4 linked regions of the Homo sapiens genome follow. The protein of the gene in region 1 interacts with the protein of each later gene in a biochemical or structural test. Each region holds a gene or a part of one and is shown in the gene's direction. Other genes may lie near its edges. The genes, in order: AP1G1, HEATR5B, EPS15 and SYNRG.

Region 1 (8,839 bases):
AGGCCGAGGCAGGCGGATCCCACGAGGTCAGGAGATTGAGACCATCCTGGCTAACACGGTGAAACCCCGTCTCTACTAAAAAAAAAAAAAAAAAAAAAATTAGCCGGGCGTGGTGGCGGGCGCCTGTAGTGTCAGCTACTTGGGAGGCTGAGGCGGGAGAATGGCGTGAGCCCGGGAGGTGGAGCTTGCAGTGAGCCGAGATCACCCCACTGGACTCCAGCCTGGGCAACAGAGCGAGACTCGTCTCAAAAAATAAATAAATAAATAAATAAATAAATAAATAAATAAATAAATAAATAATAAATTAGCCGGGCGTGGTGGCGGGCGCCTGTAGTCCCAGCTACTCAGGAGGCTGAGGCAGGAGAATGGCATGAACCTGGGAGATGGAGCTTGCAGTGAGCCGAGATCGCACCACTGCACTCCAGCCTGGGCGACAGAGCGAGACTCCATCTAAAAAAAAAAAAAAAGTCATATTTTATAGGTTCTACTATGTACTAATTTCGTGTTTTAATGTTTCTAAAATTAGGATACATTTAAAAATTGGTATCTTGTCATAATTCAGTGGGCAGCATGTTTTCTATCTCAGTGGTACATAAAATAATGGTGTGAATTACGATTGGTATCTTACATTTAATGAAATATGGTAGTAATGAATAATACTTTAGCTTACATAATTTTAATGTGGCAGAATTATGAATAAGACCATATATATATATATATATATATATATATATTTTTTTTTTTTTTTTTTTTGAGATGGAGTCTCACTCTGTCACCCAGGCAACCTCTGCCTCCTGGGTTCAAGCAAATCTCTTGCCTCAGCCTCCTGAGTAGCTGGGATTACAGGCATGCGCCACCATACCCAGCTAATTTTTGTATTTTTAGTAGAGATGGGGTTTTGCCATGTTGACCAGACTAATCTAGATCTCCTGACCTCAGGTGATCTGCCCGCCTTGGCCTCCCAAAGTGCTGGGAATACCGTGCCCAGCCCCCAGTGTAATATATCTGTACATTGAGAGTGAATCTTCACTCTTGCAACTTTTGGCCCTAGAGAAGACTAGTGTCTCTCTCTCTCAAATATTTTAGAAGTTTAATCTACTTTTAGGAAAGATTTTCAAATGCTAGTTCATACAATAGCTACGTAGTACAGTATGGTTTACCTAGCTTGCCCTATATAGCACTTTTTTTTTTTTTTTGAGACGGAGTCTTGCTCTGTTGCCCAGGCTGGAGTGCAGTGGCACAGTCTCGGCTCACCACAACCTCCTGGGTTCAAGCGATTCTCCTGCCTCAGCCTCCCGAGTAGCTGGGACTACAGGCATGTGCCACCATGCCCAGCTAATTTTTGTATTTTTAGTAGAGACGGGGTTTCACTGTGTTGGCCAGGCTGGTCTCGAACTCCTGACCTCGTGATCCGCTCGCCTTGACCTCCCAAAGTGCTGGGATTACAGGCTTGAGCCACCACACCCAGCCAGCACTTTCAACTCTTATTTCTATAAGCAAGCAAATAAACCCCACCAGCATTCAACAAATTAATACTGTTTGGCTTATCTAGGTCTTTTGCTGTATAGGCTGGTTCTGCAAGTCTTTCCGTTCCTTCTGTCATGTGGAGAGGAGGCTCTGACACATTATAGATTATGCAGGCTTTAAAAAACAAAAGTTCAAGTCTCTGCATCCCAGTTATCCAATCACACAAAAGCCTAAAAGCTTATAGTTGGTGACCAGTATGTTGGTTTGCTATTTTTGGGAAGCTTTTCTTTTCATTTCTTTCTGGCTGTTTTTTAAGCCAAAAGCACCGATATTTTACTTGCATAGTTGATCAGTTACCATTAAGTGAAGTTGCCAGAAGAAGAATTGGTCAGCTTTTGAAAAGAGGTAGGCTAGAATTCCTTCTGCCAGAAAGGAGAATGTGGTTTATTACTAGTTGTCATGATCAAAGAACCGAACAGTGGATTTTTACAAATACCACAGGGAGTCAACTCACGTGCTGTGAATTCCTGATATCTAGAAAACAAGTAGTAGGCAAAACTTAGTAGTAGTGAAATCTGTTGCTTGACCCATCATCTGGGTGTCTAAATGGTTTTTGGTATCTCTGACCTAGCGTTGTGTAATTCTTTTTCTGAAGAGTGCCCTTTGTTCCCCCCTAGACATTCCAGCTGCAGCTCTTGTCTCCTAGCAGCAGCATTGTCCCAGCATTTAACACGGGGACCATCACACAAGTCATTAAAGTTCTGAACCCTCAGAAGGTGAGTAGCACATTTGTAGCCAATATCTGAGCCGAAGTGTAAGCATATTTCCCGAAATAAAATTCTGCTTTGTTTCTTTAGGTTTTTCTGACTCATAGTTAGAGAAGAGATCAATGAAAATGCCTGGTCTAACTTCCTTGCTCTTTTGTAAATAACAAATGGAACCCAGAGACATCAGGTGGCTTAGTGGCATCTTATTAAAATGCAACTTCAAAAAAAGCTAGATTAAAGGTCTGGTTTTTGGGGGTAGGGGAGAAGCTTAGACATTTTAATTTATACACAAGTTGAAATCTGAGGTAAGAGCATTTGTTGAAACCAAATACCTACATTTACTGCTACAGTTATTAAGTATGAATAGAAAAATAGAGGCATTTTAAATGAAGCAGCCAAATGAAAAATAGCTTTAGAAACTGAAATTAAGCAATATTTTTATTATCTCTTCTCAAAGAAATAAGCTCACCTTAATAGTAATCAGTTGGTTTTCAGTTTTTGAAAATGGTTCAGAGAATTTCTTTAATAGAGCTCTACTAGTTGCTCATAAGTAACAGTATACTTTCTTTCTCTTGTAACACTTGCCTTTCCTCTGCTATTCACTATATTTTGAGCATCGGCCTCTATAGTACAAGCACAAACTCCTTTGACCATCTGATACAGAGAGTAAAAAATGTCTTAGTGCATTTGTATTTGAAATCTGCCATACAAAAAGTGTCTAATTGAGTTCTCTTAAAACTACTGCTGTTACCTGTGAGTTAAGTCATTTTTTAAAATTTTATGCTTTAGGAACAAAAGGTCATGTTCACATTTACTGTAGGTTTTTCAGATAAAGCAACAGTGTATCTGAATGGAGAGCGTACGATGAGTATATGTTCACCTCATTTTTTAAGAGACTTGGATACAAGGTTTGAATCTTTTTGAAAAGGACTCAGCAAAATGTTACTAGGAGAATGCTCCATGGTGGCTCACGCCTGTAATGCCAGCATTTTAGGAGGCTGAGGTGGGTGTATTATCTGAGGTCAGGAGTTGAAGACCAGCCTGGCCAACATGGTGAAACCCCGTCTCTACTAAAAATAAAAATATTAGTCTGGTGTGGCGGTGAGCCAAGATTGTGCCACTGCACTCCAGCCTGGGCAATAAGAACAAAACCCTGTTTCAAAAGAAAAGAAAAGAAAAAATGCTCCCAAGGAGTTCTGTCCTTTTAATGCAGTTCAAGGATTAAAGCTAACCGTGTATTCTGCAGATGCGCTTTCTCAACTTGGTGGCATGACATTGTTAGCTTCTTGGCTCAAGCCTAGAGTACTGGGTGTTTTTTGTTGTTGTTTACCTGTCATTCTTAACAGACAGCTTTGCTTTAAGTTTTGACCTCTAAGATTAAAAGTCTATTTGTGGACCGGACAGATTCTGGAGATTTCATTTCAGTATATAATTTGCACTTCTCTTTTCCTCTTATAGCAACAGCTGCGAATGCGGATCAAGCTTACATATAATCACAAGGGCTCAGCAATGCAAGATCTAGCAGAGGTGAACAACTTTCCCCCTCAGTCCTGGCAATGAGGGTTTGGCACCATTCTCATTCTTTATCCCACTCAATCAAAGGAACTCTGGGAAGGAGGTTGTGATTGCTGGCAAGTCCCCCCCAACTGTACCACGGGCATGAGGAGCTGAAGAGAACTGCTGAGGAGGATTTTCCTAAAGTTACTGCTGACCTTGAAGCATTGTTAAAGACTAATGTCCTCTCCTCCACTGTTGAGGCTGGCTGCTTCTGGAGGCTACTTTGCACTCTTCCTCTTCTCCTTTTTCCGCACTTCTCCACCCCTCCCACATTTACAGCCAGAATCAACATTCCCTGGGCCCCTGAGGAAATAAGCAGCTGGTCTGGAGGAGAGGACTGCAATCCATGGCGAAAAAACACTCACTTTGTCTCTGCAGCAAAGAGTTGCCCCTTCTTTCTACTGTTGTTTCTCTGTGGACTGGGCAAGGTGGGGTATTTATTCCTCACTAGCTGGGTTACCATCTTCAGGCACTTTTAACATCTGGCATTCGGAATGGAAATGTAATAATGGACATTAGGGAGCCCTGCCTTTTTCTACTGGTTCCCCCAATGTTTGAAAGAGGCATTAGGCTCCTGGTAGCCTTTTCTGTGCATTGCTGTATACACACAGACACACACATGTATGTTTGTTACCAAGAACTGGTCAGACCTTGCGAGTTTATTTGTAAACACTGGACAGATGGAGTTAAAAAGAGCTTTTGTTGAGATTTGGCATGAAGGATATGGTGCTCTATTTGTAATAGAAACTTCCAAGGCTCTTCCAGCTCCCCTTTCTCGCCATTCTTTAGCTGTAGTCATGAATAGTCTCCATGATTTTCAAAATTGATTCCCTTTAAAGTGCAAAATGGTCACCTTCTAAAAGATATATTCATAGTTATTAATGACCCTATTCCCACCACAAATTTTAAAGTGCTCCTAAGCCCATAACTTGCCTGTTTGAACTATGGTAATGGGTGGAAGAGGAGTTCACCAGTTTCAAAGATCAGACTCTGTATCAAAAGTACCTTTGCCCTTAGGAAGAGTGAGTATTGGAGTCATCTTATCTATTACTCCAAACCTCCCTTTTTATTTCTTGAGCCTGGCTTGGACCTTGGCATTCCGTTTGAATTCCTTCTAACTGGAACATTTGTGTTGTATCTGTAACACTGGCACTGAAATAAAGACCACACGGTTAAAGAAATCTTTCCATATTGTACTTTATGGTGTTGGAGTGAAGCCTTGTAGCTTCCATACCCCTATGTCAGAGGAGGTCTTACGGACACCATAGGGTAGGAATAGCCTTTCCTCAGTCTGAGAAATTGGTCTCTTTTAAAAGACGAATCTCATGAATATTCACATCAAAGACTTGAGCTTTTTAAACTAGTGAGAGTGCCAAGTGCTTTTTAGAAAGGACCCATATGTTATCAAACTTTGAAATTGAGTTGCTGGAATGAAGTAGAGGTGACTCTCTCTGTGGTACACATTGAATGTACTATGTATGTTCAAGTATTCAGGCGCCATGTCTTATATACTGAAGAAAGAAAAAGTGAGGCCCACCTTGCTCTTACAATGTTTGCAATTGTTACTGTATTGAATACAGTATAATGACTACTATGGCTTCAATCTTAAACCTGGAAACAAATATCCCTTTTTTTCCCCTTCATTTCACCAAGCCTTTACTTAAAATCTTCAGTGTCTTGTCAAATCTAGCTCTGTATCAGATGCTGGAATATTCCTAACATTTGACAAACTGGAGTTGAACTAAAGGCTCCACGGGAAAGTTTCTGGTCTTACTAGTGTGTATGAGCAAGATCTGCTAAAACTTACTCCACTGGGTAAATGGTTGACTGAGTCAAGAACAGGATAATATCTCCTGCATAGTTTTCAGTAATGTAAGTGTGGACTAGTGCATATTTCAGACAACTGCTCTGCCTGTGCAATGAAAAATAGCCTTTAAGGGTTTCTTTGCAGACTGATTTCATTGGATGGATACTTAATGCTGTGAAACATGATAGGATTAACATAATGTTGGTGGATTTCTTGAATAGAATTTGTCTTAACATTCCTCTTTGTGTAGAGGCTTTATTTTCTCTCTTATATTTGTAGCTAACCAGCTCAGGTTTTTTTATTTGAACTGGGTTGAATCTCTGAAGAAATCTGTTCAAGACCATGCTATAAGACACTGTCAGCTAATGGAGCTGGGAAGGGTCTACTCTGCTGACAGAGCATTTCCTTGGGTGATCATAGTTTCGAGGTAGAGTTTATGATCATTCATAGCTTTGTCTAGAAGGAGTAAAATATCATGGCCTTAACACAAAGGGTGCTGCGTAGAATATGAATTGATTTTGGAATCAGAACACAAGCACCATACTGAAGGACTAGCAGCCAAATAACTGCCTAGGATACTGATGGTTGTGAAGACTGTTTCAAATGATTGGATCTTTGAAAGCTTCAGCGTGCCTTAGTTTCTAGGATCAGAATTAGTTTTCCTCTCACTTGGCCTTGCAGCTAAATGGAGAAATGTTTCAATTTCTTTGAATACTTGCACATTTCAATAATTCCTTTCCCGAGTATAACCACTCAAGGGGGAGCAAATTTGGATGGATTTACGACTTCACAGGCATTGTGAGGAAAGAGCATTTTCCAAGGCTGTTTTGATAACCCTGGGGTGATAAGCAGTGAGCCCTCACACACTTACTTTGACAATTTCACATGCACTTGTACTTCATTATTTCCCTCTTCAAGAGTCGTTTCTATTCTAGTTTCTGCCCCATCCCGGGGAATCCTAAAGGAGAATTAATTCATCTAAGTAATCTCAAAAAACTGTAGGAAGGGTGCTCTCCCTGAGAAGCTTCTCCCACAGTGCTTTGGTGCTGTTACCTTGAGGTGGTTTGGACAGTCACGGAAGTTTTAGGCTGTGCATAGTGATCATCTGTTAATTTTAAGGTCTTTATCATTTAAAGAAACATTCCTCAGTGTAACATTTGGGAGGGGATTCTTTCCTCTTGCTAGTTTAAAGGTGTGATTTGTACTCCTTGTTTGTCCCATTCATATATGAAAATAGACTTTTAAAACTGTCCAACACTAATGGTTTATATAACATGCTTCCCATTTTTTTTATGTCGTAGAAATTGGAAGTTAGGGAGTACTGCTTTCAAGGTTCAACTTCATTATCTTCTGCATTGGAAAATATTTGGGCCATGAGAACTAGGGGAAAGGAGTTTGAATGTGTCTATTTTTTTCTAGTGAATGTATTTTAACCACAGTGTCCTAAACTGAGAAAACTAGAGAGGAAAAAGTGGGTGTTCATGAACTTTGTAGTTGGGAGAGTGGTTTTACATGTCTGTGTATTCATGACTTTGGGAGTGGGTAGGATCATTGGAGAGAGAATTGCACAGAAAGTCCTGAAGTTTAAAACACTTTTGACCAGCTTTGGCTCGGGAGAGTGGGGCTGCTTGTAGAACTGGAAGTGAATAACTTTTTCAAGCAATATCAGTGAGTGGGTCCCATCGACAGGGTTCCAGGACCTGGAACACTTTAACAGAAGGAAATGCCGAAGCAGCTTGCACAGTTGCTTTACAGACTTCCAAGAGGCTGATTCTGGCTTCAAGATGGAGCCTTGGAGTTGGTTTTTTTTTTTTTTTTTTTCTTCCCTCAAAGAACCTGCGGTTGCGCTTTGTGTGTTTTGTTTTTGTTTTCCATTTGGGGGCCCCATGGGAAAGAGCTTCTGAACTCTTTCCTTTATGAACTCCCACTGTGTTCCTATAAAGGCCCTTTTCTTTCTTAGTGTTGTAAGTTACATTTTCATTATGCCCCATCACATCTTCTTTACTGTAAAAATATTAAAAAGCTGTTTCCAAGTGGGACAGCTAATGAAGCTCTAATTATTGCAGACATATTTTTGAGATGTAAAAAAAAAAATTTAAAGTTAAATGATAAGTCTTAGAGGCGAGTGAGGAATAAAATGGATGTAAACATTTACATGGGATGCATTAGAATTCTGCTGTGTGTACTGTCTTTTGGTTGAAACAAATTATGAACAGTGACTAATAATAAAAAGTCAATACCCAATGATTTAAAATTTGCTTCCTTGCTTCTTACAATTGGATTAGAAGACTTAGATGAATTCTTATTCCAGAGGTTGAGCTAACTTACTGACCTGTTAGTATTCCTTTCACACATAAGTCTCACCAAGAGAGGAATTTGAATCACTTAAAAACTTGTAGCCAGGCGCGGTGGCTCACGCCTGTAATCCCAGCACTTTGGGAGGCCGAGGTGGGCGGATCACCTGAGGTTGGGAGTTAGAGACCAGCCTGACCAACATGGAGAATCCCTGTCTCTACTAAAAATACAAAATCAGCCACGTGTGGTGGCGCATGCCTGTAATCCCAGCTACTCGGGAGGCTGAGGCAGGAGAATTGCTTGACCACAGGAAGCGGAGGTTACAGTGAGCCGAGATCACGCCATTGCACTCCAGCCTGGGGTGACAAGAGTGAAACTTCATCTCAAAAACAACAACAACAACAAACTTGTGTTATAGACAGTAAAAAAGTCCTAAGTGCAATTGGACATTTTAACTATAATATGATTAATTTCATGCTTAATCTCCATAGGTCAATTCTCAAGGCAGAGAAACCAAGATGAAATGTATATTAAGGGTGGTTATGGGTTTTCTTTATAAGCTGCTTTTTGTGAATTTTTCAAGTGTATCTGTGACTGGGCAGAGGAAGGCTTGACCAGTCAAAATGAGTTATATTTCATGGTCTATTTTATATGAACTGTGTATTTTGTATATATTAACTTTTGTAGGGATGTGGTCTTGCTATGTTGCCTAGGCTGGTCTTGAACTCTTGGCCTCAAGCAATCCTCTTGCCTCAACTTCCCAAAGTGCGGGGATTACAGGCGTAAGCCACCGCACCTGGCTTGTCTTTTTTTAAGACAGAGTCTCGCTGTGTCACCCAGCTGGAGTGCAGTGGTGCGGTCACTGATCACTTCAGCTTTGACTGCCCTGGTTCAGGCAGTCCTCCCACCTCAGCCGTTCTAGTAGCTGGGACTACTGGCATGCACC
Region 2 (4,817 bases), on another chromosome or scaffold:
TTTCTTATACAAATCTATTAAACCTACATTAGATCTTTTCTTTGAGAAATATTGCCTAATTGCGTAGCTCACTCCGATTTTACCCTTCATAGAATTTATTTGGTATTTGTAACCAACCAAATAAAATCCCAAAGTATTCCTCAGTTTTGTGATTCTCTTGGTGAATTCTATACGGAAATGCTACCCACGTTTTTTAGCACTTAGTACTCTAATTGTTCTATGTGCTGTCTACTGTTTTCATTTAGATAATAAAAGAATCCAGGTAGAAACAAATTATGTAACATTTCCTATAATGCTTAGCATATTTCTAGATATTTGATGAATACTTAAATAACTTATATTTTTTCCAGTTTTATATATATATATATATATATATTTTTTTTTTTTTTTTGAGACAGAGTTTCACTCTTGTTGCCCAGGCTGGAGTGCAGTGGCCTGATCTTGGCTCACTGCAACCTCCGCCTCCCGAGTTCAAGTGATTCTCCTGCCTCAGCCTCAGGAGTAGCTGGGATTACAGGCGCCTGCCACCACGTCCAGCTAATTTGTTATATTTTTAGTAGAGATAGGGTTTCACCATGTTGGCCAGGCTGGTCTCGAACTCCTGGCCTCAGGTGATCCACCCGCCTCAGCCTCCCAAAGTGCTGAGATTACAGGCATGAGCCACTGCGTCCGGCCTCCAGTTATATTTTAAAATTGTTAAAACCAAAACCTTAATTTTCAACCTACTGTTGAAAACCTACTATTGAAACCTCTTCCAATTTAGCAAGCCAATATACTGAAGATAATTTTATATATATTTTATAATTCTCTACTTTATTTTTATTATGAAAGCCAGCTTTTATAATACTATTAACTTTTTTTTTTGAAAGGGAGTCTCGCTTTGTCGCCCATGCTGGAGTGCAATGGCACGATCTCTGCTCGCTGAGACCTCTGCCTCCCAGGTTCAAGCGATTCTCCTGCCTCAGCCTCCAGAGTAGCTGGGATTACAGGCATGTGCCACCACACCCAGCTAATATTTTTGGGTTTTTTTGTTTTGTTTTGTTTTGTTTTTTGAGACAGAGTTTCGCTCTTGTTGCCCAGGCTGGAGTGCAATGGCACGATCTCGGCTCACCACAACCTCCGCCTTCCAGATTCAAGCGATTCTCCTGCCTCAGTCTCCCTAGTAGCTGGGATTACAGGCATGCGCCACCATGCCCGGCTAATTTTTTTTTTTTTTTTGTATTTTTAGTAGAGATAGGGTTTCTCCATGTTGGTTAGGCTGGTCTCAAACTCCTGACCAGGGGATCCGCCCACCTTGGCCTCCCAAAGTGCTAGGATTACAGGCATGAGCCCACCGCGCCTACCCCTATAATACTATTAACATTGTACATGAGGGAAATTGAACTAAATCTAGAAGATTGGAGGATTTACCTGGGACTTTAAAAATAAGCTTTTTACCTCTTTTCTGAAAACTTAATATGGAAACAAATCCATTTAATTGGAAACTTCTGGGTAGTTGCCAAGAGAAAGAGTATGTATGTTTATTCATTCAAAGCATAGTTACTGGATGGCTGTGTACCAGGTAGTGTTCTAGGCATTGAGAATTTCTCGTGAAATAAAACAGGCAAAGGTCCCTGATCTCATGGAGCTTACATTTCTGGTAGGAAAACACAGACAATAAACACTTCTCGTCCCCTATACGTGTGTGTGTGTGTGTGTGTGTGTGTGTGTGTGTGTGTGTGTGTGTGTATCTGTGTCTGTTATATGTAGACATGTATCTTTGTGCAATTTTATATAGTGATGATGGATATATCAATTTTAGATGTAGATATAACATCTATAGTTAGATGCAGGAATTGATAGGAGCTGTGAAGAAAAAAATACAGCAGGGAAAGAAAATAGGGAGTAAGGTCCAGGGTGGAACTGGGATTCTGGAAAGGCTTCACTGATTATTATCACTGTCCTTGCTGACATCAGTGAGTGTCACACATTCTCTACCAGATGCTTCCTCCTGCCTTACAATTGCGTCAGTTGTCATTCTACAAAAATTAACAGTAATTAAGGGGGAGAACGCGTAATTCTCAATGTGATTATGAGATGTTATACACACACACAATTACATATAAAGGTTAATTGTTAAAAAAAATCACCTTTAATGAAACTTATATCCCAGGATGGAGTTGTTAATATAAGTAAAGACAAAAGACTAACAAAAGGAGATGAAGCCTCCAAATAAATACTTTTTTAAGGACTTGGAATTTATATCAGTCGGACATAGGTTCTTGTTTTTTTAACCCTAAGCTTATGTATTCCCTTAGTTTTGAGGAATTTCCCCTCACTGTGAGTTTTGGGGGATGATGAAATAGGAAAAAAGTTGTATTGTATTTCTACTTAAAGAGGAAAGAAACAACTAGTGTTAGTTAAATAATGGTAAATAGATGCTTTTCAGGTTTCTGTTCCTCACTCCAATCTCCTGATTCTAGAATGCCCGTAAAAATTTTATAATCTTACTCTCAAGATACATTCTACCAGGTGGCAATTGTAAAGTGTTTTATTACTTTTTAACCTTTGGCCCTTTTTTTTTTTTAAGTAAAGCAAATTAATATAAATGTAAAATATACAATATTAACAAACCTGGTTTCCAGCTTGTACATTTAGTAAATATTTAATATTAATTACGAGTTATTGAGGTCTAAAGTAGGCTGTGCATGTGTACTTATATTTTATTATGTTCAGTCTTCCATGGCAATTGCCTAGTTTTTAAAGTTTATTATAATCCTTATGTTTGTGATCTTTTTTCATACTTTATTATTTACAGGAGTCCAGCTACTTGCTCTTTTAGTTCCCACTTTGATATCTTACCTGCTGGATGAAAATTCTTTTGCCTCAGCAAGTTCAGCTTCCAAAGATCTTCATGAGTTTGCACTCCAGAATTTAATGCATATTGGACCTCTGTATCCACATGCTTTCAAGACAGTAATGGGGGCTGCTCCTGAGTTGAAAGTGCGTCTAGAAACTGCCGTTCGAGCAAGCCAAGCGAGCAAAGCTAAAGCGGCTGCCAGACAACCAGCCCCCGCCATACATTCTGCACCAACAATTAAGCTAAAAACAAGTTTTTTTTAATTTGTAATTTCATTTATTTGTATTTATGTTGTCAACTAGCCCCTAATTAGTGATGGCCACTGTATCATTCCAGGCTACCTATGGGTTCTGTTTTATTTGTATATTGGTATTATAGTGCTTCCAAGTAGGTTAAGTGAAATAATGCTCACACCACTTATTGATTTTTAAGGAGTGATTTTTTTTATCATGTGGTGAATATGTTTTCATTTTCCTCCTAATAATGTTTCTCTTTTGTTAACTTATTTATTTTTCAAACACTGAGCCATAGTCTTAAATTTAAATGCTAAAAACAATTGTATCATGTAGTCGGGCAGCCTATTGATACTGTCAGGGGAAAAAAATGGGTCAGAACTCAGCATCTGTCATGAAAAAAATCAATTGAAAAACAAGCAGATTTTAAATTTTGAAGTAATCAAAATAATGGAAAGTGTCTGTTTTGTGGTGTATATACTATGAATAAAATCACAGCATTTTCTAAGCATTTCCCAAAATGTCCTTATCTTTCTGATGGATCTTTTAGCTTTCATATCAAATTACTAAATTATGCTATGTATATTTTAGTTGGTAACAATTAAAATTCTCATTTAAAGGTTCACTAAAATGTTTAAATGTAATATAATATTCTGCTTTTTTTAATGGCTAAAATTTGGCTTCAGTTATGTTTTGTAATTACAGAACCTCAAGTTCTGGCTATGATGGTTAGTTTCCTTCATCAAATATTTATTGAATGCCTACTGTGTATAAGGCATCAAGCTAAGTGCTGCAGGGGATACAAAAATGAATTAGGCATAATTACAGTGATGCCATTCTTTCATGTAGTGGGCATTTTACCGTACGAAATAGATAATTCACACAATGAATGTTTGCCACAGCATTTAGCAAATTTTAAACACCAAGTTTTACCGCACAGTGTAACAGACTGAACAAGTATTATCAAAAGCAAGTCACTTTCTGAACATTTATCTTCTTTTCTCTTTTCCTTTCTTTTCCTTTTTCTTTTAGAGACAGAGTCTTGCACTGTTGCCCAGACTGGAGTGCAATCATAGCTCACTACACTTGAACTCCACTCAGCCTTTTAGATACCTGAGATAGGTACTTTGTCTTGCCTGTTTTCTCACTGACTTTTGGGTGTTTTTTTCTTTTCTTTTTTCTTTTCTTTTTTTTTTAGATGGAGTCTCTCTCTGTCGCGCCCAGGCTAGAGTGCAGTCGCGCGGTCTTGGCTCACTGCAACCTCCGCCTCCTGGGTTCAAGCAATTCTCCTGCCTCAGCCTCCTGAATAGCTGACATTACAGGCACCCGCCACCACACCCAGCTAATTTGTATTTTTAGTAGAGACGGGGCTTCATGTTGGTCAGGCTGGTCTCGAACTCCTGACCTCAGGTGATCTGCCTGCCTCTGTCTCCCAAAGTGCTGGGATTACAGGCGTGAGCCACCATGCCCAGCTTCTTTTCATTTTTGTTTTGTTTTGTTTTGTTTTGAAGCAGGGTCTCACTTTTGCCCAGGCTGGAGTGCAGTGGCACATGACCACGGCTCACTGCAGCCTCAATCACCCAGGCTTGAATGATCCTCCCACCTCAGCCTGCCAAAGTGCTGGGATTACAGGCGTGAGCCACCACACTTGGCGCTGGTTGTTTTTTCATTTCAGGTTTGCATTGCCACAATTATTCTCCTTGGTTTTTGTTTTTGTTTTCGCTAACAACTTCATGGAGATCCAG
Region 3 (8,839 bases), on another chromosome or scaffold:
AAGTATAAAGTCTTCCTTAAATCCTTTAATGTGAGAATATATGGCCTCTTTAGTATCCAGAATTCAGCAATACAGTGATTTGAAACAAAGTATTGGTTTTCTTGAAGGAAAATGGTATTTTAGCTAACTTAAAATATTCCTCTTTTTTTTTTTTTTTTTTGAGATGGAATCTCGCTCTGTTGCCCAGGCTGGAGTACAGTGGCATGATCTCAGCTCACTGTAACCTCAGCCTCCCGGATTCAAGGGATTCTCCTGCCTCAGCCTCCCGAGTAGTTGGGATTATAGGCATGATCCACCATGCCTGGCTAATTTTTGTATTTTTAGCAGAGATGGGGTTTCACCATGTTGGCCACGCTGGTCTCTACCTCCTGACCTCAAGTGATCTGTCCACCTCGGCCTCCCAAAGTGCTGGGATTACAGGTGTGAGCCACTGCACCTGGCCAAGACTCTTTTCTAATAGTGATTTGTTTCTTATTTTTGTTTGTTTCTATGTATAATTAGTATGTGTGTGTATGTATATGTTTAGCACTATACAAAGGAAAGTTTGTTTTGTTTTTAGGTCATAATAAGTGGCTAAAAGGATAATTCCTTGAGTAGTTGTAGTGCTGTTGGGGTATTATGTGAGAAGACACATCTTAGTATATTTTTTTTTAAATCATACCTCATTCCTTGGGAAATTTTCAGTCTCAGTAGTTACAGATTAATATTGCCTTTTCATCATAACCTTTCCATGGTCTTGAGCAGATAGGTTTTTTTTCTTTGACTGAAAGAATTGCATGTACAATTGTAAATATCCGATAATCTGTTGAAAAATCAGGTAAATGAGTTAAGTGATTCCTTCTAAGGAAAGGTAGCTTATGTCATATATTTCTAGAAGTGAGGTTATCAGAATATATTTAAAAATAAATAATGGTTAATTTGCACATTTAAGTTTTTACAACTTGCATGATGCCAATAGTGAGGTTGTTTTTTTAAATCTTAAGTAAAATAATATGCTAGTGTTTTTGCTCAATCTAAGAATCTTCATCCAAGTAATTGTATATCATTGTAAAAAGATTAAGGAAAAGACTGGTTTGTTGGAAAGAGCACTAAACTGGGAGTCTAAATATCTGGGTTCTGTTTCTGGATGTTCCCTGACTAACTATGATCTTAAGTGTATAATTTCATATATCTGACCCTTGGCTATTAAATGTTGGCAGTAATTCTAATTTTGCCTACTTTCACAGGATTATTGGAAGAATCCATTGAGATATGAGCATCTTTTCTAAGCAGCTACAGTGATGGAATCTGTTGTTATGATTGCTATTACCAGCTTATGCATTTTAGGAAAAAAATATATTTGGAGATATTTTGACCCCTATTTTTATTATCTTTTCTTCAAGAAGTACTAAGTTTAAGTAAGACTTAGAGAACTTGTTTGAAAATGGTAATGAATTAGTGAGTGACTAATAGGACAGAATACTATTGTTTGGTCAGAGATTATTTGATCAGCAACCGCAAAGATTTAGGCCCTGGGCTTCAAAACATTTTTTCTTCATTTTGAAATACAGTAAATAACAAAAAATTGGCAGCATTTTACTACGGTAATTTAAAAATTTTATGCTCTTAGGTATTGTATGTAGAACTAGAGAAAAATCAGAAGAATTTTCCCAGTTTTCAGAGGTCATTTGCTCTTACTGCCACTAGTGGATAACTGTTATCAGGCTGAGGGCTGTAACAGCAGAGGCAGGCCATTTCTGTCTTTATTCTTTATTATTCTCCTTCTGTTTAATCCATTCGTCTCTCCTTTTGGGAACATGCTGCTTGGGTGTGGCTAGGGGATGGTGGGATTCAGTCTTTGGACAAAAATATGATTCCTGGCCCATCCTTACTTTGCTATTTGTTTCATTAGCTGCACATAGCTGGAATCTATTTGAGAGATCATGTGTGAAGAATTTGAGGACAAATTGTTGGTGTAGCTATTTAAGACAATATTCAGAATGTGTTTTAGGTACTCAATCATCCTCTACCCACAGTACTTTAATGCTATCTGTGTACATGTTCTTGTGTGCTTGTATTTGCTGTATTTACTGGTTGAATTAATTGTAATGATTTTGATCCAGGGAAAAGATCCATCAACAAATTGGATTCTCCTGATCCCTTTAAACTGAATGATCCATTTCAGCCTTTCCCAGGCAACGATAGCCCCAAAGAAAAAGATCCTGAAATATTTTGTGATCCATTCACTTCTGCTACTACCACTACCAATAAAGAGGCTGATCCAAGCAATTTTGCCAACTTCAGTGCTGTAAGTACTGTGAATGAGCTGTTTGGGGGAGAAATCTTTAAAGAGTTTTCAGAGATTATTTTGGAGTCTGCCAAGTTTGCATCATTTTAACTAAATTTACCAAGATACTAAAAATGATCTTTCATTCTTCCCCCAAGCAAAACCTCTGTTTGATCCTGTTTTGACAGTTCTACGGTTGTTCCATCGCACAGATGATTTTAGTAGTCCCAGTTCTTGTCATATACACAAGTTGTTTTGTAAATCTTTCTCTTAGTCTTGGTAATGTAAGTAAAATCCTAACAGTTATTATTTTGTGGATGGTTATGGGTGATGGTGATTTAATGAACAATTACAGAGTCATTGCTCTCTGCCCACTAGATGAATAATGCCAGTAATAAGTTTGTGTATTTGCAGCTGTGTATGTGTGTTTGTGTATAAAGTTTTAATGATTTCTGGAGACCAGTCAGCAAATATTATATGAGAGGATAGAGCCAGAGATTCTTTGAATAGAAAGTAAAACTATTAAACTTACACAGTAGCTTTTTAAAAATGTAAATGCCAGTTTTATGAAATAAATAAATAAATGGTTGTCAGGATTTAAACAATCTTTATTTGGAGGGCCCTAATTCACTAACTTCTCATGTTTACTCTGCGTTCTTTCAGAGATGTCTAAAATAGGAAGATCGTTAGAAACAGTGGAAGGGTGCCATGATAACAGCATAAGCAGGGCCTATAAAATCACAGAAATGGGGCAACCAACCATGGAGGTATCAGTCTAGAGAGACATAAAGCAATGTCATATATTCCATCATTATTCAGTAAAAAAAGTTATTTTTTAATAAAATTCTTAGACCGGGTAACAAATTTTCAGTTTCACAGTTTTTTCAGGCAAAATAACCTTCGTTATCATTGCCTGTTCTATAAAACAGAGATTTTCTTCTATTTATCACCTTATGCCCTTGAGATGATTTTGGAAATAGATCTAGTGGCCAGGTAACTCTGCCTAATATTTCCCTCCTCAGTGTAGCATTGGGCCATTCAACCAATTGCTTTATTCCTGCAGCTGTTTCTAGTTAGAAGGGAGGTAGTCAAGAATCTGCATGCAGGCCGGGCGTGGTGGCTCACGCCTGTAATCTCAGCATTTTAAGAGGCCAAAGTGCTTTAAGCACCTGTAGTCCCAGCTACTTGGGGGGCTGAGGTGGTGGAGGTTGCAGTGAGCTGTGATCATGCCACTGTACTTCAGCCTGGGTGACAGAGCCAGACCCTGTCTCCAAAAAAAAAAAGAATCTGCATGCAACTAAGACGACTGAGCTCCCAGCTTTTGAATCTGTACTCTAAGTTCTGGTGGCTTCTCTTGACTATGAAGGAGCAAAATAGGAATCAATATTTTGAATATTGTAAAAATGGAGTGCCAGAATTATACTGATTTTTTTTTTTTTTTGAGATGAGTTTTGCTCTTATTGCCCAGGCTGGAGGCGCGATCTTGGCTCACCACAACCTTCACCTCCCAGGTTCAAGCAATTCTCCTGCCTCAGCCTCCCGAGTAGCTGGGATTGCAGGCATACCCACCACACCTGGCTAATTTTGTATTTTTAGTAGAGACGGGGTTTCTCCATGTTGGTCAGGCTGGTCTTGTACTCCTGATCTCAGGCGATCCACCGGCCTCAGCCTCTCAAAGTGTTGGGATTACAGGTGTGAGCCATCGCGCCCAGCCTTACTTAACTTTCCTTTTTTTTTTTTTTTTTTTTAAAGACAGAGTCTTGCTCTGTCGCCAGGCTGGAGTGCAGTGGCGTAATCTCAGCTCACTGCAACCTCCACCTCCCAGGTTCAAGCAATTCTCCTGCCTCAGCCTCCCAAGTAGCTGGGACTACAGGCACGCACCACCACACCTAGCCAATTTTTGTGTTTTTAGTAGAGACGGGGTTTCACCATGTTGGCCGGGATGGTCTCGATCCCTTGATCTTGCAATGTGCATGCCTTGGCCTCCCAAAGTGATGGGATTACAGGGGTGAGCCACCGCATCCAGCCCGACTTAACTTTCATTAGATGGAATTTGATTTGTTTCAAGCAGAGAATCAAAAATTGGCCTTTTTAGAAGGTTATAATTCTCTTAGTGTAAAATAACCCTCTGGTAGTTTGTGGCATTTAATATCTTAAGTATGGTTTTAGCAAGTCAAACTCTTGTTGGGGCCAGACGGGGTGGCTCACACCTGTAATCCCAGCACTTTGGAAGGCCGAAGCGGGCGGATCACTTGAGGTCAGGAGTGTGAGACCAGCCTGGCCAACATGGTGAAACCCCGTCTCTACTAAAAATACAAAAATTAGCCAGGCATGGTGGCGCATGCCTGTAATCCCAGCTAGGGAGGCTGAGGTGGGAGGATCACTTAAGCCCCAGAGGCAGAGGTTGCGGGAGCTGATATAGTGCCACTGTCCTCAAGCTGAGTTACAGAGCGAGACTCCGCCTCAAAAAAAAAAAAAAAAACAAAAAAAAACAAATCTGGTTGGAAGGAGTCTTGAACAACAGCTGAGGCATTTTGCTCCAAAATCTCAATATAGTATAATAAAAAACAGCTTATAATAAGAACATCTTCTTTTTTCATTGTGAAAGATGTGGTTAAGCATTACACGTTTCAAAGTTTTGCTTAATTCCCTAGGGAAAAAAACTACCATTTCAAAAGCCTGACAGTGTATTTTATTTCATCCTTTCATGAAGGATTTTCTATGTAACAAGACTTGAAACCAATTAGAATTTTTAATTTAGTATTTGCCAAGGTTGCTGTTTGGGGTAGATAAAAATATTTCCCCAACATAATAATTATGAGTGTTAAGATTTTATTTAGACTGGTCTAAAAGTTCCCAAAGCCTGGAGAAATCTTCATAATGCTTTTTGTTTTATTTTTATTTTTTTTGGCTCACTCCGTCGATCTGGCTGGAGAGCGGTGGTATGATCACAGCTCACTGCAGCCTCAACTTCCCAGGCTCAGGTGATCCTCCCAGGTAGCTGGAACTACAGATGTGCACCACCACACCTGGCTAATTTTTTTTGTAAAAACAGAGTTTTGCCATGTTGCCAAGATGAACTTCTTGAACTTCTGAGCTCAAGCAATTGGCCCACACCCACAGAACTAGGATTACAGATGTCAGCCACCATGCCTGGCTCAAAATGCTTTTTATAAAATATGATTAGGTTCTTGGGAGGCCGAGATGGGCGGATCACCTGAGGTCAGGAGTTCGAGATCAGCCTAACCAACATGAAGAAACCCTATCTCTACTAAAAATACAGGATTAGCCGGGCGTGGTGGTGCATGCTTGTAATTCCAGCTACTCGGGAGGCTGAGGCAAGAGAATCGCTTGAACCCGGGAGGCGGAGGTTGTGGTGAGCCAAGATTGCTCCATAGCACCCAGCCTGGGCAACAAGAGCGAAAACTCTGTCTCAAAAAAAAAAAAAAAAGATTAGGTTTAAATCACATCTTGCTTAGTATACCCAATACTTTAATATGATGTATAGCAAAATCAGCTTTTTTTTTTTTTTCTTGCTTCTTAGCTTTTTTACACATTAAGGGTTAGGAAACTACCAGTGGGATTAAATTAAAAATGATTTGTTGTGTGAGGGTCTCAGTAAAGTTGAAGTGGTAAATATTTTACATTACATTAGGTCAAAAAGGCTAGCCCTGTCCTGTTTTTAAATCTTCTAATCTACTATAAGCATTTCTACTTTTTTTAGTGAGATATATATATATATATATCACATTTAAAAAAAAAAAATATATATATATATATATATATATATATATATATATTTTTTTTTTTTTTTTCAGATGGAATCTCACTTTGTCACCCAGGCTGGAGTGCAGGGGTGCATTTTCGGCTCACTGCAACCTCTGCCTCCTGGGTTCAAGTGATTCATGTGCCTCACCCTCCCAAGTAGCTGGGATTACAGGCACCACCACCATGCCCAGCTAATTTTTGTATTTTTAGTTGAGAGCGAGTTTTGCCATGTTGGCCAAGCTGGTCTCGAACTCCTGACCTCAGGTGATCCACCTGCCTCAGCCTCCAAAGTGCTGGGATTACAGGCATGAGCCACCACATCTAGCCTAGTGGCATTTTTAACATTTAGTTTTATAGACTTTCTATCTATAGATTGAATTAATTTTTTAAATTAAACTATAGCTTAATAACTGGTTAATATTAAACATGTTTTCAGGGGGAAAAAAAAAAGAATTAACAAGTAACCAGACTATTTCCAGAGTCCTTCAGGTGTCCTTTTGTAAAAACTATTTTTCCTTCTTTTTACTTGCTTTACTCATTTATTTATTCGTTTGTTCATCGATCTTTTAAATGGCAGTATCCCTCTGAAGAAGATATGATCGAATGGGCCAAGAGGGAAAGTGAGAGAGAGGAAGAGCAGAGGCTTGCCCGACTAAATCAGCAGGAACAAGAAGACTTAGAACTGGCTATTGCACTCAGCAAATCTGAGATATCAGAAGCATGAAGAATTCTCTTGTTCTTTGGCAACAATATAGTATTCTTCTTCCTGAATACTGAAACTATTTACAATGTGTATCAAAACTACCTGTGAGCATGGGAATACAAAAGGTTTGAGATTCCTGTAAATGTGACAAAATTTTAGGATTTTTTTTTTTTCTTCATTACAGATTCGTCTTTTTTTTTTTTTCTTATAAAAGCCGTAACCCAGTCAGACAAATTCACCTTCACTTAGGCCCCTGTTCTGGTATACATTTACTGTGAGCTTTTGCCTGCCTGTGCTATTTTACTTGTAAAGCTAGAGCACCCAAGCTTCTGCCTTCTGGAATATAGAGAAATAGTTTCACCCTGCACTACCCTGTTCTGTAGTTATTCTGATGATAGCCAGTGAGGTTCTTAAAGTTTGCAGTATTCTCCCCTGATTGGAATGGTTGAGTGAGGGTAAGGGAAAGAATATCTTATTTCTTTTATGATTGGTGCAAATTGGCTAAAGTGCATTTTTAAATTTCCTCTACTTAATTTGTTTTTCAGAGATAAGGAAAAATATTTTGCACAGATTTACTCCACTATGGAAAAGGGATGCTGTAGGTTGAACCATTATAGCCTCAGATTCGATCTTTTCCTAACTAAAAATATTAAAGCCTCATGTGTGAAATAAATTTTTAAAAAGATTTATCTGGATTTAGAGAATTTTAGATCAACAGATACCTCTCAGTGTGTTTGCTAATTAATAAAAATCAGTTTCTTACAAATAAAGTTTGTAAGAAAATGTTCATTTTAAGTGATAGATAGTGGAGAAAATTTATCACCTAAAATATACCCATCAGTATAAGGCAAGCAAAAGTCTTAACATGGCAGCCATTCTGCCTTTGCCGTGGCCCTGTCCTGTTTAGTTCTTAGTGGGTTAATTTTTGTACTTTTGCAGAAGAAACTTCAGCAAGCTAGAACTGGAAGGTACTTTAATTTTTCATATATATTTGTTTTTTTTTTTTTAATGAAGGCTCATTTACTTGAAATGTAAAAACTTTCACTGAATACAAATAGAAAAAGTGATGTGTTTTATATCATATTGCTTTTTGTCCATCTTTGTGGTTTAGTTTATTTACTCACTTCATGTTTTTCACCTATAAAATTGTCAAGCTAGCAAAAAAACTCTTGTTTTTTTAATTGGGAGAGAAGAGACCTGCCAGATTATCAGACCTCTTCATGTTAAAAGACCATCTCCTGTAAAACTGACCTAGTGGACAAGCTGAATTTGAAATAGACTGTGAAGTAAGCTGTAACTTGTCATTTTAATTTTGTTTAACACGGTTACTGACTTAGATGATGTATTAAATACCAAGATAAAGAAAAATGCACCTAAAATCTAATTAGAATTCTCTGGGTCAACAAGTCAAGGTGGTATTGATCTGTGTTAATCTGAGTAACTTATTGCCTAGCCTATAAATAAATTCCAAAATATCCAATTCATTTCTTCTTGAAATGGTGCTTGTTTTGTTTTCTTTCCATTACACAATTAGACTCCTACAGTTTAAAACAAACTTTAAACCACTATCTTGCACTGCTAACTTTTTTCTACCTTTGTAAATAGAAACATTTCTGCATAAAAGTCATACATATGAAGCAAGGGCTGAATCATAATCACAAGGCTTAATTTTGATAAACGAATCCAGTGACCTAAGGATTTTCTGCAAAATTTGACTGGGAGTTGTGATAGGTGGTATTTTTGTTTATTTTCTTCCTCTTACTCCTTAGGATAAAGGTAAGTTGACTTGAACAACTTTCTTTTGCACTGGGAAAATAAGCAAATGTTTAAATGCTTCAAAAAAATTTTCAATTAAACTCAAATATTAAATATCTATAACTTATAAACACCAACTTTCAATGTAATAAATGTATCCTAATCTTATGTATGTTTAACTGGATTACATAGATTTTTATCTTTTGTTAAAATGTGTATACCCCGTGGACCAACATAATATTAAAGTATGTATATATTATATAAATATATATGTATATGTGCTCGCTTGTGTAGGATGAATGTCTTAGAGTCGTTTGTGGTATTTTATGTTGTTGACTCTGGCTCCA
Region 4 (8,839 bases), on another chromosome or scaffold:
TCACTACAGCAAAAACCAAGAAAGCTTTGGGCTAAAGGCTTTTCCATTCATTCTAAACTATAAATTTTTCACCTGAGGCCAGGCACAATGGCTCATGCCTGTAATTCCAGCACTTTGGGAGGCCGAGACGGGCGGATCACCTGAAGTCAGGAGTTCAAGACCAGCCTGGCCAACATGGTGAAACCCCGTCTCTACTCAAAATACAAAAACTAGCCAGGCGTGGTGGCGGCTGCCTGTAATCCCAACTAATCGAGAGGCTGAGACCGGAGAATCGCTTGAACCCAGGAGGCGGAGGTTGTAGTGAGCCGAGATCGCGCCATTGCACTCCAGGCTGGGTGACAAGAGTGAAACTCCATCTCAAAAAATCAATTAAAAAAAAAAAAAAACTTTTCACCTGAGTCGTTTTTTCCTTCTGTTTTATAAACCACATTTGAAGGGTACCATTGCACCACAGAATTTTTAAATATGCCATCATTCTGTGAAAGCTGTTTGCTTTTTGCTGGTTGGTTTTTTGTACAACTAGTGTTTTTTGTTTTTATTATTCACTTAGCACCCCTTTCCTAACAGCTCAAAGAAAGAGAGATTTGGATTATACCATTAGAAGAGCTATGGAAATGTCAGGAGCTTCTTACCCCTCATAAATTATGCAGTATTGCTGTGAATGAAAGAGAAGAATGACTCCAAGTTGGTTCACTTATTGACTTAGTTCTGAAAATCTAGGTCATAAAACTTTTGAGCACTTTCCTTGTAAATCACATATGTGGTTGTCAGAGGGAGAGTCTCATATTTGGCCTTCTTGCCTCATGTACAGTGACTACAATGAAACGAAATGCATATCAACCCACTTCTCCACACCAGCCAAATTCAGTCTCGGCTGGTTTTGCTTTCTGAAAATGAGCAAGAAAATTTTCTCCTAGTAACACCACTAAAATGCTGAGTTGACTTTTCATTTTTGCTTTGAAATTCCACTGTAGGCCCTAAAGCAGCAATTAACTGTCAAGTTGAGGCTGGTGGCACCTATGCTGAGCAGACACTAGCTATTATGTATTGCTCACCAGGCACCAACCTGGCCTTTTACACACATGATCATGGTTGATGGTCATAACACAGTCCTTCCAAGTACATGGTCTTCTCCTCTCCTCATTTTACTGATAAGCAAACTGAGGTTCAGAAATGTTCAATCATTAGCCTAGTGTCATACAAATAGTAGGTAGCAAGGTTGAACTCAGGTCTTTCCAAATCAAAAACCTACATTCTTTATGCTGTTTTATGCTACCTCTTAAATTACTTAACTATATATTAAGAATGCTTTGTAAAATCAGTCGTCTGCCCCAGCAGTTCTTTCTTTTTCTTCTTTCCTTTTTTTTTAAAAAATGGGGAGTAGATACATAGTTGAAGGAAAAAGTGGAGCCCAACAGGACCCAGATCTTTTTATTGTATTTTTTTAAGGGCTAAAGTAGATCAGATTGATTTTCTTTCCTCATACTTCATCACAGCAATATGACGTCCAATTTGACCAAAATAACAACTAGGTAAGTAATTGCTTGATTAAAATCTCATGTTTGGCATTGCCTGAGACAGAAATTCTAATAATTGATAATATTATGACAGAAACCCTAATAATTGATTAAAAGTTAGATGACATTATTTTCATTTTAGTTTTGAGAAACTGTCAACTTTTAATTATTTTGCCATGTGCATTTCACATGACCATGTTTTAAAGGCACATTTTCCAACAAAGTCAAGATGAAGGGAGACATGTTTTAGGCAAGGAATATCAGTACATTTTTAAGTTGATAAGGGAACAATTTATTAAATGACCCTAATCTTATATCAAACAGTGTATACTTTGGTAGATGAACCTCCTATCTTTTTTTAGTAATTTTTATAGCCAAAGAAAATGGTTCTTGGTAACTAAATGTAAATGCCAACTCAAGGCTAATGTGGGTTTTTTTAAGATCAGATTTTACAGCCCAACTCTTAATTTTAGTACAAACTCTAAATTTAGCTAATTTCAACATAGTATAAAACTAATCAAATATGCTAGGCATTTTGCTTCTACAGAGTTTAGGGCATTTTGCCTAAATTGCTTGCCTCTAATTGTGGGGTCTTATTTCCCTTTCAGATATAGAGGACTTAAAATATGCTGCTTTTGGAAGCTACAGTAGCAATTTTGCAGTGAGCACACTTACAAGCTATGACTGGTCAGACAGGGATGATGCAACTCAGGGCAGAAAACTCTCTCCATTTGTCCTCTCAGCAGGAAGTGGATCCCCCTCAGCCACCTCAATTCTTCAAAAGAAAGAGACTTCATTTGGCAGTTCTGAAAACATCACCATGACATCTCTCTCCAAAGTAACGACCTTTGTAAGTGAAGATGCTCTTCCAGAGACCACCTTCCCAGCTCTTGCCAGTTTTAAAGACACGATTCCTCAGACCAGTGAGCAAAAGGAATATGAAAACAGAGACTATAAAGATTTCACAAAACAGGACCTGCCTACGGCTGAACGGAGCCAGGAGGCCACGTGTCCCAGCCCAGCGTCCAGTGGTGCCTCTCAAGAAACCCCGAACGAATGTTCGGATGACTTTGGAGAGTTTCAAAGTGAAAAGCCCAAAATCAGCAAATTTGACTTCTTAGTAGCCACTTCACAAAGCAAAATGAAATCCAGTGAAGAAATGATCAAAAGTGAGCTGGCAACCTTTGACCTTTCTGTTCAAGGTGAGTAGCTTCCAAGGTAGATTTTACTATTGTGGTTTTTTTCCACTGAGATGTTAGATGTTCTTAAGAATAAAATGTTGCTCTCTGGTTTCGCAGGAAATAGATTGTTCTAATCTTTGAAATCAGGGTCAATTACAGATAGCTATAATAAAGATTTCCCTGAGACGGGAGTCAAAATCAGCATCCCTCAGATAACTGCTTTATGGGCTAAAAACAAGCACAGCATGCAGGTATTGCTCATTAGCTCGTTTGGTTAGAGGTGTGCTGTGTTAAAAGAGCCAGATAAATGGATTCGAGCCACTTGTAGGCACATTAGCTCCGCTCATGTTCCCTGAGCACAGATAATGTCTTTTAATCCAAAGGTTGCAAAGTGGGGGCCGGGGATCTGCATCTAGCCTGCATATCACATTGACCCACACAAAAGATTTTTAAGTACGAAGTAATTGCCAGTATTTAAAAGACATGAGATTTCCCAATCTGGATTTCCAACTTTTCTTGAGAAGTCATAATATCTGGCACTAGTAGGTCTACAGTCCCATATGTTGGCAGCTGGAGCCGAAGAGCACCACTCCCTGTAGGTGGGTCATTCTCTCTCTCCTACCATAATCCCCACCGCTTCCTGTCTCAGCGGACCTACTTAAGTTGTTCACTTTACTTGCCTGGTCTCTGAAGGCATTTGAGTTTGCCTCTTCTGCTTTAATCTCATCCTGACAGGAGGGGTCGTTGATTTCAACTGGATTGAGAGACTGTGAAGGAACTCGGTTACAAATCCATAACAAATGACTGGAAAAGCCACACAACTCTTACATACTGATATTTAGAAAGGTGCTTTTGTTCTCCAGACTCCAGTGATTCTGCACTGGGCATTATGGAAGACTTGTGATAGATCAGAGAAGAGTCATGTTGAAAACGAAACGCAGGGAAACCGTGCAAGAGAGAACAGTAGAAAAGATTTAACATGTAGCTTCCCAGAAAGAATGAATGAGGAATGTGTTTGTGAATGCCTCATGACATAAGCATCTGAAGAAGAGGGTCGTGGGCTGGGCGCGGTGGCTCACACCTGTAATCTCAACGCTTTGGGAGGGGAGGCAGGCAGATAACTTGAGATCAGGAGTTCGAGACCAGCCTGGCCAACACAATGAAACCGTGTATCTACTAAAAATACAAAAATTAGCCAGGCATGATGGTGTGCACCTGTAGTCCCAGCTACTCAGGAGGCTGAGGCAGGAGAATTGCTTGAACCCAGGAGGCGGAGGTTGCACTGAGCCGAGATCACACCACCGTACTCCAGTCTGAGCGACAGAGCAAGAATCTGTCTCAAAAAAAAAAAAAAAAAAAAAAGAAGAGGGTTGTGGTAGCGAGGAAGAGCCTCTGCCTGAACTAAGGTGAGTAGCCAAAACCTTTGACTGTATTATCCCCTTCTCCCAGGATCACACAAGAGGAGTTTGAGCCTTGGTGATAAAGAAATAAGCCGTTCTTCTCCTTCTCCAGCTTTGGAGCAGCCTTTCAGAGACCGTTCCAATACTCTGAATGAGAAGCCCGCCCTGCCCGTCATCCGAGACAAGTACAAAGACCTGACGGGAGAGGTGGAGGTGAGAGGAGAGCTTTCTACAAGGGGTGGGTAACAGACCAGCAAGCACACAGGGCCCCAAGAAAGAATGCTGTCAGCTTTCACATGGGGAAAATGAGGGGCAGAAAGACACAAAGCACCAGACATAAACTATGTAATTAAAGTGAGGCAAGGGTAACATTAGCCCTGGGTGAAAACATTTCCCAGGTGTGGCACCCACTGAAACTAATCAGTGACCCTAAAACCAAAACTATTCATGGGACTTCACAAGGATGGCAGTGTTTGTATAATTCTTCTTGAGCACTTAGACTTTATTGTCTTCATGAAACCTCAAAATAGAGGAGACAGGGAAAATATTCTGAATTTTTTATTTCTGTCTGCTGCATCTTAGTGCCACGCTATGTTCCTCCTATGGTCAACACACTTAATTTCCCACCTTTCCCTACTCCTTGTTACATGTGCACATGGGCCACGTCCTCACACACAGCCACACAGCGTTATAACTGGGGCGTGGAAAGCCAGTGGCTTAATAGCAGTTTCTGTACCAGATAGCTACATGCTGAGTGCCTCCGAAGAAAGGCTTACACTGTTACTGATGGAACAAATGAGGCAACACTCACAGGGGGAAGCTGCTGGAAAGCATGTCCCTTAGACTCACAGGTCCTGTGCTCAGAAGTTACATTTATTAGTAATTTAACATAGTTATTAGTGAGTTCAAAAAGATAAACTGCGGCTGGGCATGGTGGCTCATGCCTGTAATCTCAGCACTTTGGAAGGCCAAGTCGGGCAGATCACTCGAGCTCAGGAGTTCAAGACAAGCCTGAGCAACATGGTGAAACCCCACCTCTACCAAAAATACAAAAATTAGCCTCATGTGGTGGTGCGTGCCTGTAGTCCCAGCTGCTCTGGAGGCTGAGGTGGGAGGATTGCTTGCGTCCAGTGCAGTGAGCAGAAATCATGCCACTGCACTTCAGCCTGGGCAACAGAGCAAGACCCTATCTCAAAACAAAAACAAAAACAAAAAAAACATAAACTGCTTGAACTAGAGTGATCGTAATAAAAAGGAAAGTCCTCCAAGCACTTTGAATTGACAGAGTCATCAATAGAAGATTCCAGGTTTGTGTGTTTAACCCAGTTCTTTTTAACAAATTCACAGGAAAATGAGAGATATGCATATGAATGGCAGAGATGCCTGGGGAGTGCCCTGAATGTGAGTATGTCACTTACGCGTTCACACATATGTGAGTGCTCTTTTGTGCCTTTTTGCCTTCTTGGTTCATTTGAATTGACAGAGGCAAACTTCAGGAGAGCCTTACTTGGATGTCCCTGGGCAAAGAGTAACTCTGTGGAAGTCATGCATCTAAGGTGAGGCTTCTTTCACACTTACAATAGCAGACCGGCTCATGTGTCAGTCATCCCCTCATCTGTCATTGTGTTTAAGAAATAACAAAGTGATTTCATTAACTCTGACTAAATCAAAATAATATTTAAGCTAAAGAACCTGTCTTGGCTGGGTGCGGTGGCTCAACACCTATAATCCCAGCACTTTGGGAGGCCAAGGCGGGCGGATCACGAGGTCAGGAGTTTGAGACCAGCCTGACCAACATGGTGAAACCCTGTCTCTACTAAAAATGCAAAAATTAGCCAGGCGTGGTGGCACGTGCCTGTAATCTCAGCTACTCAGGAAACTGAGGCAGGAGAATCACTTGAACCCGGGAGTCAGGGGTTCAGTGAGCCGAGATCTTGCCACTGCACTCCAACCTGTGCTACAGAGCGAGACTCCGTCTCAAAACAAAGCAAAACAAAACAAAAGGAAAAAAACATATTTTCTCTTCCAGAGAAATGGAGGATTGTTTCTTCAAGGATAAAATGAGATTTTTTGACACCTCCTGGCTTTTCGGTTGGGTTTTCTACTAATAGTAAATTGATTTGCAATGACTTTTCTCAGTTATGTAAGGTGATGTGATTTCATTTCTTGTAGGTCATTAAGAAGGCAAATGATACCTTAAATGGAATCAGTAGTAGTTCTGTTTGCACAGAAGTAATTCAGTCAGCTCAAGGCATGGAATATTTATTAGGTATGTTCTTTCATATTTTACTATTGAAAATGATGGCCCTTTGCATTATTTTCAGTTTTCCCTTTAATTATTTTAAGCTAGATCTCTCAAGTTACATATGACTTCAGTAAGAAGCATCTGTATTTGTGGGTAAGACACTCAAGCTACAGGCAGTAAACTATTGGACTTAATTAAAAAGTCTCTATGGCTAAGTTTCCTCATCCTTGTTATATACGTAATAGCAAAAATGTAAAATTATATCTGTGTTACTGGTTTATCAAAGAATCTGAACTACCGATGCACTAAAGTAAAATCATCTTGTCTCCCATCAATTCCTTACCATACTCTATATTCTTTCTCTCGACCGCTTAATGACACCACAGAGTCCTTAACCTCCTGGCCATCTGCAGCAATTTGATGTGTCAGTCCAACGGGAAAGTGTAGTCTCTGTCCACTTCGGTGTTCCTCCCTTCCCCAAGCTCAGGCTTGGCCCGTGGCCAGAGCCACACATGCTGGACCCTAATCTTTTTCAAATCTTTACTCAAATGTCAGCTTCTGAGTGAAATCTTTCCTAGCATCCATCTCTCCAAAGAGTATCGTCTCTCCCTACCCCGGTACTTCCCATCCCATTCTCTGCTGGATTTTCTCCTTAGCCCTATTACCTTTAATTTCTTACATATGTTACTTATTATTCTTTTCTTTTCTTTTCTTTTTTAAGACAGGTTCACACTCTGTCACCCAGGTTGGAGTGTAGTGATGTAGTCATGACTCACTGCAGCGTCCACCTCCCAGGCGCAAGCAATCATCCCACCTCAGCCTCCCAAGTAGCTGGAACCACAGGTGTGCACCACCATGCACCCAGCTAATTTTTGTAGTTTTTGTAGAGACAGGTTTCCGCCATGTTGCCCAGGCTGGTCTCGAACTCCTGAGCTCAAGCGACCCACCCACCTTGGCCTCCCGAAGTGCTGGGATCACAGGCGTGAGCCACTGCACCTAGCTACTTGTTGTTTTTACTCTCTGTCTCCCTTCACTAGAATGAACCTCCAAGAAGGCAAGGATTTTGGTCTGTTTTGTTCACTGGTGTGTCCCCAACACCTAATCTAGTGTCTTGCACGTAGTTGGCACTCAAAAATATTTGCTGGATGAGTGGAGAGTGAAGGGATGTAGTCTCTGCCTTACTCCTGCCACCTCACTTGGGGTCTTCTTTTCCTGCTCAAACAGGCACAGTTCTGCATAAGCAGATGTCCACCAGGAAATGGGGCACCTGTCTTTTCTCCTAGTATCCTTGTATCTATGGAAGATTCTCTTAGAAGCCCCCTCACTTGGCTTAGGGTGGGCAGTAATTTCTGCCCCTCTCTTGGGAAAGGAAGAAGAAAAGCCGTAGTGCTGACACAGGGCTGCTGAGGCCCCGCTCTGAAGATCCCCTGGAATTCCTCCAGTGTTCACTTAGAGAGATCGGGGTCATGTCTTTGGTGACTGTTACATTGCAGGGGTTAGGGATGTGTCTGGTGGCTGTCCTTAGAATGTGGAGGTACTTAGCACCTCTCATCCTTGCTTCAAGAGTTCAACCACAATTTAGAGACCATAGGAAAAGAACTGTTCTGCATCCTGTTATGTGTTTAAAGATAAGTGAAGTCAAAGTGTTTGTAAGACCTTCAGATTCAGAGGGGTGAGATGTTTCTTCATTACTTTGTGATGCTATTAACATTTAGATTCTTTTAAATTTTTACTATCCCCATTTTCAGCTAGTTTATTGGGATTTCCCAGATTCAAACAGATGGACTCATAAATAAACCTCCCAAAAAACAAAAGCTAATAACTTGCATAGTGCCTGCCATTCTCCAAGCACTGTTGTAAGCCTTTTACCATATTACCCTATTTAATCCTCTCAACCATCCTTGGAGGAGCTACTGTTACCATCCCAACTTCACAGATGAGGAAACTGAGGTACAGAGAGATTATGTGACTTGCCTAAGGTCATGTAGCCAGTAAGAGGCATAGCTGGGGTTTGAACCCAAGCAGTGCAGCTTCTATGCTCTTACCAGTAAGCTATACAGCAGCATTGAGAAGTGGATTGGTCCCAAAGAATAGTAAGTACACCTCTGTCCAGATACACCCATTGTTTCTCACAGATATCAGCAAGCAATAATGCTCCCCTGTCTGGGTCCTCTGTGTCTCCACTGCCAACACTCTCTCTCTGCTCTCTCATCCCGTCAGGTGTTGTTGAAGTGTACAGGGTAACCAAGCGTGTGGAGCTGGGGATAAAAGCCACTGCAGTGTGCAGTGAGAAACTCCAGCAGTTGCTGAAGGACATCGATAAAGTATGGAATAACCTAATCGGCTTCATGTCACTCGCCACACTCACAGTAAGCCCATGAGACAACTCAGCAGTTGCTTTCCTTTCCAGAAACCTAAGTTGTAAAGCAGAGTGTATATTCCTATGATGGTACTTATTAGAGGCTGGAGGTGCCAACTGGAGCATGTTATATTAAA

What was found.
Region 2: the proteins of AP1G1 (region 1) and HEATR5B form a complex in vitro, tested with the Homo sapiens proteins (one study listed by BioGRID).
Region 3: the proteins of AP1G1 (region 1) and EPS15 form a complex in vitro, tested with the Homo sapiens proteins (2 studies listed by BioGRID).
Region 4: the proteins of AP1G1 (region 1) and SYNRG form a complex in vitro, tested with the Homo sapiens proteins (2 studies listed by BioGRID).

What each region holds. Positions count from the first base shown.
Region 1 is NC_000016.10:71,728,013-71,736,851, reverse strand, and holds the end of AP1G1 (AP-1 complex subunit gamma-1), read left to right. Parts: intron 1-2,144; coding exon 2,145-2,243; intron 2,244-3,692; coding exon 3,693-3,794; 3' UTR 3,795-7,852; downstream 7,853-8,839. UniProt on the Homo sapiens protein: Subunit of clathrin-associated adaptor protein complex 1 that plays a role in protein sorting in the late-Golgi/trans-Golgi network (TGN) and/or endosomes.
Region 2 is NC_000002.12:36,979,775-36,984,591, reverse strand, and holds the end of HEATR5B (HEAT repeat-containing protein 5B), read left to right. Parts: intron 1-2,797; coding exon 2,798-3,102; 3' UTR 3,103-3,697; downstream 3,698-4,817.
Region 3 is NC_000001.11:51,354,619-51,363,457, reverse strand, and holds part of EPS15 (epidermal growth factor receptor substrate 15), read left to right. Parts: intron 1-2,102; coding exon 2,103-2,287; intron 2,288-6,611; coding exon 6,612-6,758; 3' UTR 6,759-8,839. UniProt on the Homo sapiens protein: Involved in cell growth regulation. May be involved in the regulation of mitogenic signals and control of cell proliferation. Involved in the internalization of ligand-inducible receptors of the receptor tyrosine kinase (RTK) type, in particular EGFR.
Region 4 is NC_000017.11:37,535,852-37,544,690, reverse strand, and holds part of SYNRG (synergin gamma), read left to right. Parts: intron 1-2,125; coding exon 2,126-2,719; intron 2,720-4,147; coding exon 4,148-4,311; intron 4,312-5,445; coding exon 5,446-5,499; intron 5,500-6,270; coding exon 6,271-6,367; intron 6,368-8,563; coding exon 8,564-8,712; intron 8,713-8,839. UniProt on the Homo sapiens protein: Plays a role in endocytosis and/or membrane trafficking at the trans-Golgi network (TGN). May act by linking the adapter protein complex AP-1 to other proteins. Component of clathrin-coated vesicles.